Linked DNA regions of Homo sapiens: region 2 is linked to region 1. The links come from fine-mapping of genetic effects on gene expression. Tissue or cell type: whole blood. Region 1 holds a variant in brackets; the other region holds the start of a gene. All regions are shown on one strand. Distances are between the middles of the regions.

What was found. PIP is the estimated chance that this variant, and not a neighbour inherited with it, causes the effect.
Region 2: it holds the start of PTPN22, and the variant in region 1 is the best candidate, but not a certain one, in a credible set for the expression of PTPN22 in whole blood (INTERVAL, PIP 0.78).

Annotation. Positions count from the first base shown.
Region 1 is chr1:113,891,134-113,895,530 of GRCh38, reverse strand. It overlaps AP4B1 (adaptor related protein complex 4 subunit beta 1), which reads left to right. Exons shown (of 10, transcript NM_001253852.3): 10 at 39-1,337. The coding sequence ends at 466. The region is part of intron 3 of AP4B1-AS1 (AP4B1 antisense RNA 1); the gene reads right to left. Among named protein-coding and RNA genes, the nearest start is that of BCL2L15, 5.8 kb to the right of the region's middle. The variant C/T (reference allele first, on the strand shown) is at 1,671.
Region 2 is chr1:113,869,253-113,873,649 of GRCh38, reverse strand. It overlaps PTPN22 (protein tyrosine phosphatase non-receptor type 22), which reads left to right and starts at 1,938. Exons shown (of 21, transcript NM_015967.8): 1 at 1,938-2,113. The coding sequence starts at 2,027. The region is part of intron 3 of AP4B1-AS1 (AP4B1 antisense RNA 1); the gene reads right to left. RefSeq lists enhancers at 1,933-2,192, 2,751-2,800.

The DNA of each region.
Region 1 (4,397 bases):
TAAGAACATCTTTCACACAAGTTTTCTGTCTCTTTTAGGACCCTTGATTCCTGAAGAGAACAAGGAGAGGGTACAAGAACTCCCTGATTCTGGAGCCCTCATGCTAGTCCCCAATCGCCAGCTTACTGCTGATTATTTTGAGAAAACTTGGCTTAGCCTTAAAGTTGCTCATCAGCAAGTGTTGCCTTGGCGGGGAGAATTCCATCCTGACACCCTCCAGATGGCTCTTCAAGTAGTGAACATCCAGACCATCGCAATGAGTAGGGCTGGGTCTCGGCCATGGAAAGCATACCTCAGTGCTCAGGATGATACTGGCTGTCTGTTCTTAACAGAACTGCTATTGGAGCCTGGAAACTCAGAAATGCAGATCTCTGTGAAACAAAATGAAGCAAGAACGGAGACGCTGAATAGTTTTATTTCTGTATTAGAAACTGTGATTGGAACAATTGAAGAAATAAAATCATAACAGAGTCTTGTTGCTTGTCTAGAGTAAGATGAATAACTATTACACTTTCTTAGTCTTTCCTATTAGAGCTGCCAGTAAGTCCAGATAATATCAGATACAAAGGAGAGTGGAAAATCTAGAAATCAGGATTCTTAAGTTTTTGGCCAAAGAACATTGATTCATTCCTTTCATTCCTATTGGCAATTGACCCCATTTTTCAGTGATGATGTTGTAGAGGTTAATGTTGGTAAGGAGATGCGTTGAGGATGGGATTTGGATTATTTCCTAATCAATTTTAGGAATTGTGTTAGTAATTAAAGATGGCTGATGTGTGGAAACTGATAGGGGTCATCATTTGTGGGGGTCATCTTTTCTTCCCTGGATTATTATAGTAAATTCCTAACTGTTCTCATATTTCCAATCATGCTTTTAGGCCAGATTCCAAAGTCCTTAATGTCATCTAAAGTACCTCTTTGGTGTCAAGTCTTGCCACTCCCAAAATGACTTCTTTTCTGGCAGAAGCAAACCATTTGCATTGCAGTTCCCTTTATACACCTGCTTCTTTCACCTCTGTGTTAACTTAAACCTGCTTTTATTTATTGCCTGGAACATTTTCTCACCCTCATATCTTCTTGAATTAACACCTCGTCTATCTTTCAGTGTTCAGCTCACTCATAAGCTCCTTCAGGAAGTTTCCTTTAACCCTCACTGCCTTCATTAGGGGCCTCCCTCAAGCTATCAAAGTAGCCAGAGCATACCTCTAGCAGTAGTATTGTAATTGTTTTCTTGTTGCTTGTCCTCAATTTTTATTCTGTTCTTATCTGACCACATTTTGTACATTGAAGCAACTTATGGCAAGAACAAATCTAATAAAATGATGGTAAAATATAAATAGCGAATCCAGAATGGGAAAAATTAAAATACCAGTTAAGACCAGCTAGGTTGGGGATGGGGAAATATACAAATGTTCAGGCTGTATGGGCCTATTAGGTGATATAGTTGAGCCTTGATTTGTCTCTATAGGTGATTTAGCAGTCAGAGTTAAGGGAAACAGTTATAATTGTCATCAGAGAGGAAGAAACATTGATTTCTAAAAGAAATGTACATGTAGTTTCACATAGGTGGTACTAAGATATGTGCAAGATCCTATGAGAAGTTAGTAATGGGTTTCACATGACTTTCTTAACAGTATTCTTCAACGAAAGCAGAGAGCATGACTTTAATA[C/T]AGAGCTTAGACTGGGTGCAGTTGCTCACACCTGTAACCCAGCACTTTCGGAGGCCAGGGAGGGAGGATTGCTTGATGCCAGGAGTTCAAGATCAGCCTGGGCAGCATAGTGAGACCCTGTCTGTAAAAAAATTGACTTAGCCAGGCATGGTGGCACATGCCTGAAATCCCAGCTGCTCAAGAGGCTAAGGCAGGAGGATTGCTTGAGCCCAGGAGTTTGAGGTTACAGAGAGTAGTGATCACACCACTGCACTCCAGCCTGGGTGACAGGAGACCCTGTCAAAAAAAAAGAACATAAAAAAAGTAGGCTAGATATGGTGGCTTACGCCTTTAATCTCAGTACTTTGGGAGACCAAGGTGGGTGGATCACTTGAGGCTAGGAGTTTGAGACCAGCCTGGGCAATGTAGTGAGATCCCCATCTCTACAAAAGTAAAACATTAACCAGGTGTGGCAGCGTGTGCTTGTAGTCCCAGCTACTTGGGAGGCTGAGGTGGGAGCATTGCTTGAGCCTAGGAGGTCAAGGCTGCAATAAGCTATGCTCATGCCACCGAACTCCAGCCTGGGCTACAGAGCAAGACCCTGTCTCCATAATAATAATAATAATAATAACATGGTGCTTAATGAAGGCATTTCTTCAAGGACTTAAGATAACATGATCCAAGTATATAGCCTTTATCATCCAGCTTAATTCAAGGATTTTTACTACCTAGATATAGATAAGCACATACCTTCAGATAATTTTTCACCTATCACTTCTCTCAAATAGCCTTTTTTTTTTTTTTTTTTAAATCTGAGACGGAGTCTTGCTGTGTCACCCAGGCTGTAGTGCAGTGGTGTGATCTCAGCTCACTGCAACTTCTACATTGCAGATTCAAGCCATCCTCCTGCCTCAGCCTCCCAAGTAGCTGGGACTACAGGCATGCACCACCACGCCTGGCTAATTTTTGTATTTTTAGTAGAGATGGGATTTCGTCATGATGGCCAGGCTGGTAACTCCTGACTTCAAGTGTTACCCAGCCTCAACTAAGCTCTTAATAGGAGTAGATAACAGACAGTATTGAATTTTCTGGTAAGAGCCTGGGTTTTGTGAGTTGTTTATTGAATGGACTTCCCCATTGAACAACCTTTTTTTTTTTTTTTTTTTTTTAGGTGGAGTTTTGCTCTTGTTGCCCAGGCTGGAGTGCAATGGCGTGGTTTTGGGTCACTGCAATCTCCACCTCCCGGGTTCAAGCAGTTCTCCTGCCTCAGCCTCCCAAGTAGCTGGGATTACAGGTGCCCGCACCACACCCAGTTAATTTTTTGTATTTTTAATAGAGATGGGTTTTCACCATGTTGGTCAGGCTGGTCTCAAATTCCTGACCTCAGGTGATCCACCTGCCTCGGCCTCCCAAAGTGCTGGGATTACAGGCATGAGCTACCGTGCCTCGCCTGAACAACTTTTAAGAATGATTCTTTCTTTCCTTTTATTTCCATAGTGCCTGCCACATAGTATTACTCAGTAAATCTTTACTGAATGAATGGCTGTATATAATTAGATTCTGATGTGTTTTGGGATTGATGTTTGAAATGGGTTTTATGATATTGTATCAACTATATGGAAAATGATGGAACTTATTCTAGACCAGGATTTCTTAAAAGTGGCAATACTGACATTTGAGGCCAGATAATTCTTTGTTGTGAGGGGCTTTCCTCTGCACTGTAGAATGATTATTAGCAGTATCTCTGGCCTCTGTCTACCCACTGGATGCCAGTAGAACCCTCAGTTGTGACAACTAAAAATGTCTCTAGACATTGTCAAAGGTCCCCTGGGACAGGCGGCAAAATTGCTGTTACTTGAGAACCACTGATTTAGACCATGGATCCTCAGGGACAGGAAAGGGAGGGATTAGAACAGCTTCAGAATTGCATTTTCTGTATTTTTATGGTTCAGTTAAATGGTGAATGTTTAATTAGGTACTAAGAGAAATAAAATTGAAGTGCTGCCAATTCAAAGTGTAGCAAGGGGCCGGGCGTGGTGGCTCACGCTTGCAATCACAGCACTTTGGGAGGCTGAGGCGGGTGGATCACAAGTTGAGGAGTTTGAGACCAGCCGGCCAACATGGTGAAACCCCGTCTCCACTAAAAATACAAAGAATTAGCTGGGTGTAGTGGCGGGTACCTGTAATCCCAGCTACTCGAGAGGCTGAGGCAGGAGAATCGCTTGAACTTGGGAGGCGGAGGCTGCAGTGAGCCGAGATTGTGCCACTGCACTCCAGCCCAGGTGGCGGAGTGAGACTCCATCTCAAAAAAAAAAAAAAAAAAAAAAGGCGTAGCAAGGGAACAGGATGCAGGTGGTAGAAATTGAGTAAACTTATTGACTTTTTAAAATTAAAGACTATAACTGAAATGTTGATCTAAAGAAAATTAGGTATGACTAAGCAACTGAATAAATAATAATACTAAAGTGATCCCAACTATTGGAGCTTTTAGAAGACTATGTTCTACTTGGTTGCTTTTCTATAATGTAAGAGGAATACATAGAATATGAAATTGTTGCTTTTGGAAAATATACTTTTAAGATTATCTCAATGAAGAACTGATTTCTCCTGTAGCCTGGTTTTACTAATTTATAAGCAAAATGACTAAAGCTCAGGTATACTATGAAGTTAATTCTTTAATATTTCCCCTGCTAGGAACTCTGTATAGCTTCTGCAGACATGGGGTTTGATGATGTGATATAAGTAGAT
Region 2 (4,397 bases), 22 kb after region 1:
TATCTTTAGTTCTGAGTTGCTTTATTAACTGGCTAAGGATGTTTTTGTTTTGTTTTGTTTTGTTTTTACCATATTCTGGCTTTCTCAGTGTTGTATGCCAATCTCCTAAGACAATGTTTAGAATTTAGTGGGTACTCAATAAATTTGTTGAACAACTTAATGGATTTTTAAATGTTTATTTCTAATTTTAAAAACGGTATGATAATTTTAGAAAGCAAACTTTATCATAATTCTAAAATTATGATAATTTTAGAAAGCAAACTTACACAATTGATTCTTTTTTGCTTCTTTTAGTCTTTAACTATGTACACACTTTTACATGGTTTTAGTTATTACAAACTTGAAATTTTGTATTTTTATAAATCAAAGATTTCCCATATTTTATGTTTTAAAATAGCCAAAGTAAACATCACGTTACTTAGAGCAGCAAGAAATTCTCTCTTAATTCTAGATGGGGATAATTTAAGAAATATACTATTCCTAACAAATATTGCTGAAGAATGAGGGTTTATTTTAATTTATGTATACTGGGATTGAGTTTCTTAATTTGAAATATTGTCTTTAAGTTGTCTATAACCAAGATATCTCGATGATCTTTCTTTTTTTTTTGCAGTACTTAGTAAAGAGCATGCAGTATCTTTAATGTTCAGATTAAGCAGTGTTCAGAATCATGATATCCTGAAGGAAGTTTGAATAATGTTGCAAAACAGAAAGGATTGCTAATATCTTAAATAGAGGAAGTCCTAACAACACATTTCCCAGTTTTCTTCAGGATCAAGACTAATTTTGTTAACATTTGTTGAACTTCTGCCTTCAATAAAGATGATATACTGATTTTTGGATGTTCTCACACTGAATTAGGCACTTGGGTAGACTTGTACCCATTGAGAGGTTATGCAAGCTCAAATGTGGAAAGTTTTTCTAGAAGAGCCTGCCTTTCAGGGCCAAAATGCCACAGGCACAGCATAACTTCCTGAAACAAATTTATTTCCTAAGACATTGGTTGCAGAGTAGAAATGTGTTCTTTAGAAACAGTTCTTCAGGCTTTCTGCCCTAAAAGTTACAATGTTGTCAGCAAGGTGGTTGATTTTACTTTCTTTTTGTTCCATCACAGTTTACCAGCATTACATATGCAGGGTATTGAGCTAACTGTCTGGTCAGGTGCTCCTTGTGGGGGCCACTTGCTCTAGATCCTATATAGACCAACACTCTTAGTCTTTATATCCAGAACCCAAGTGAAGCTTCAAAGGTTACTGGGAGGGTTGAAGAGGTGCTGAAATCAACACTTCCCTTAATGGAGGTCAGCACTTCCCCAGTCCTGGGAGAGACACAGACTGTCAGAAGCATCTGACTTTGCTTCATTCAAAAGGGAGTTTGAGGTATATATAGCAGACTTAAAAGTTATGAATAAAAATACCTTCTGTGATGAACAGAAGTTTCTCATTGATCACACTGACAAGAAACCTTTCGATGAACAGTCCGGGTAGAAGACATGTCACTCACTCTAAACAGTGTCTGTCTTCTTTCCTGGGCCTAACTGAACTTTGCAGAGTTCATTTGGGACATAAGGAAACAGAAGGTGTCAACTTGGCCCTTGTGCTCACTGGGAAAATGGGGAGAGACAGAACTCATTCAGGAGACCTGTAATTCTGTTCTTTCTCTGGGAGGCAAGAAGAAAGGTGAGTTTTGCATATGGGTGATGGAATGGAATAATCTCAGTTAAGCAGACCACACTTTACGTTCTAGTTAGCCTCTTGTTTGTTAAAAATTTGAATTGTAACCAGGTTCCTTTGCTGAGAAGGAAGGCACTAGGGCCCTGGAGTGAGATGATGGCTGTGTTATGTGACCACAGAAGGTGGTTACGTACTAATTTCCTCTAGGGCTTGTGATGAAGTCAGTAAACCACAGCCTTCAGCATGCTCTGCTCAGGCGGCAGCAGTGGCTTTTTGGAGGTGTCTCGGCCATGACACACATTTGACATGCCCTCCCTCAACCTACTTATAGACTATTTTTCTTGCTCTGCAGCATGGACCAAAGAGAAATTCTGCAGAAGTTCCTGGATGAGGCCCAAAGCAAGAAAATTACTAAAGAGGAGTTTGCCAATGAATTTCTGGTGAGTCCTGTATGTGACCCTCTCAGGGTAGTTACATACACTATTTAACTGACTATGGGGGTCCAATTTTCCGAGACCAAATTGCTCTTGGGATAAAGTAAATATGAGACCTTGGCGGGGAAGACAGAAAAAAAAAAGTTTGACTTCTCTGAGTGGTTTGCATGTATTTCAGGTATTCTCTCAAAATTACTGGTTTTAATATTTTGTTTGCTAGTTCTTTGGAGTTTGGTTAGGAATCCTACAGAAGACATATACAACTCCAGATGTAAAAACACTAATATTAATTGAACATCCAGATTTCCCCAGGTATCTAAGTTGTGGTTTATGCTTTATATTACTAATTTTAATTAATATTAAGAAGAAAGAGACCAATGTTAACTTTTCATGCAATATTACATTTTTAGCCTCCCCTCTGGGATTCTATTTGGTTGACAAAGGTTTTTGAAGAGCACCAAAACTACCCACTGCCACAGTTTTTTTTGTTGTTGTTGTTTGTTTTTTTAAGATTCAGAATCTTACTCTGTCACCCAGGCTGGAGTGCAGCAGTGCAACCACAGCTCACTGTAGCCTTGAACTCCTGGCCTCAAGTGATTCTCTTGCCTCAGCCTCCTGAGTAGCTGGGGCCACAGGTGTGTATCGCCATGCCTGGCTAATTTAAAAAAAAATTGTTTTTTTCTTTTTTGTAGATACGAGCCTTGCTTTTTTGCCCAGGCTTGTCTCGAACTCCTGGCTTCAAGCAATCCTCCCATCTTGCCTCCCAAAGTGCTGGGATTACAGGCATGAACCACTATGTCTGGCCATCATTTTTCTTTTCTTTTTCATATGAAAAATATATTATAACATGTGTTTTTTCAATAACAGGGCTTCCTTAACTTCTTTTGCTTGGAGAAGTGGAATGGCTAGGATGGAGAGTAGAGACAAGTGTAGGTCAAGGAGAGAAACATGAGTACAAGGTAGCTTCAGGTTGGGTGGATTAGATTACCCAGAAGAACAGTGAATCTCCTTTGAGAGAACTGTGATTATTGATGCAATGGCAGCTGGGTAGGCCTCATTCACCCTACAAGCTGAGATATCAGATAACATAGGGTGTCTAATAGTACCTATCATGTATTTTAGAATGCTTACAGCTGGCGTTTCAGAGATATAAGAATTTTAAACCTTAGCTCTTCAGTTGTGAAGAAATGGGTGGAAAGAGGGGAACTGAAGTACAAACCTGAAATTAAATCATGATTTTTTTTCACCAAATTATGAAGTATTTGACATGTTCTTAAATCTCTCTGTTTTCTAACTTATAAAATGGGGATAATAATACATGTCCTACCTATCCTCACAGGATTGTTGTGATGATTAAATATCAATAACAATCATTAAATGTGGTCATTTATTGAGTACCATTTATTGAGCACTTAGTATGTACCAAGTTCAGTTCTAAGCACTAAAAATACAGCGGTGAACAAAAAGAACCAAAACCTTTGCCTCCTGGAGCTAACACTCTGGTACCGGATAGCAGATGTGAAAACACTCTGAAAGTCTTGAGTAATTAGATATTATTGAGTGATTAGATATTATGATAGGAACTCCGATGTCAGCTCAACATGGATAATCTTGTGGTACTATGAAAAATGTGCTCTCACTGCCACTGGCTGATCAGTCTGAGCCCCTCTGGTAGAGTTACCTGAAAGGAGATAAGTAGGAAGTTCTAGCACATGTGTATACATGTCCCTGCCCCTGGACTATAATTCCTAAGCCAAGGTAACCCAAGGCATAGATGTAAAAAGTGAGCTGAGGGGCAGTGCCGGCCTCTGTTTTATTTTGGTTGTGTTTTTTAAAATAATGTAGACTGGCCGGGGGCAGTGGCTCACACCTGTAAACCCAGCACTTTGGGAGGCCGAGGCGGGTGGATCACCTGAGGTCAGGAGTTTGAGACCATCCTGGCCAACATAATGAAACCCCATTTCTACTAAAAATACAAAAATTAGCTGGGCGTGGTGGCAGGCACCTGTAATCCTAGCTACTCAAGAGGTTGACACAGGAGAATCGCTTAAACTCGGGAGGCAGAGGTTGCAGTGAACTGAGATAGAGCTGTTGCACTCCAGCCTGGACAACAAGAGCGAACTTCTGTCTCAAAAAAAAAAAAATGTAGACTATATCCCTAATATTTTACCTTTTCTCAGCTAAAGTCATTATAATTTCTCACCAAAATATAGCAGCTACCTCCTAACTGGCTTCTCTGCCTCTAGCCTTGCCCCACCTTCAGTCAATTTTCAGTTCAACACCCAAGTGA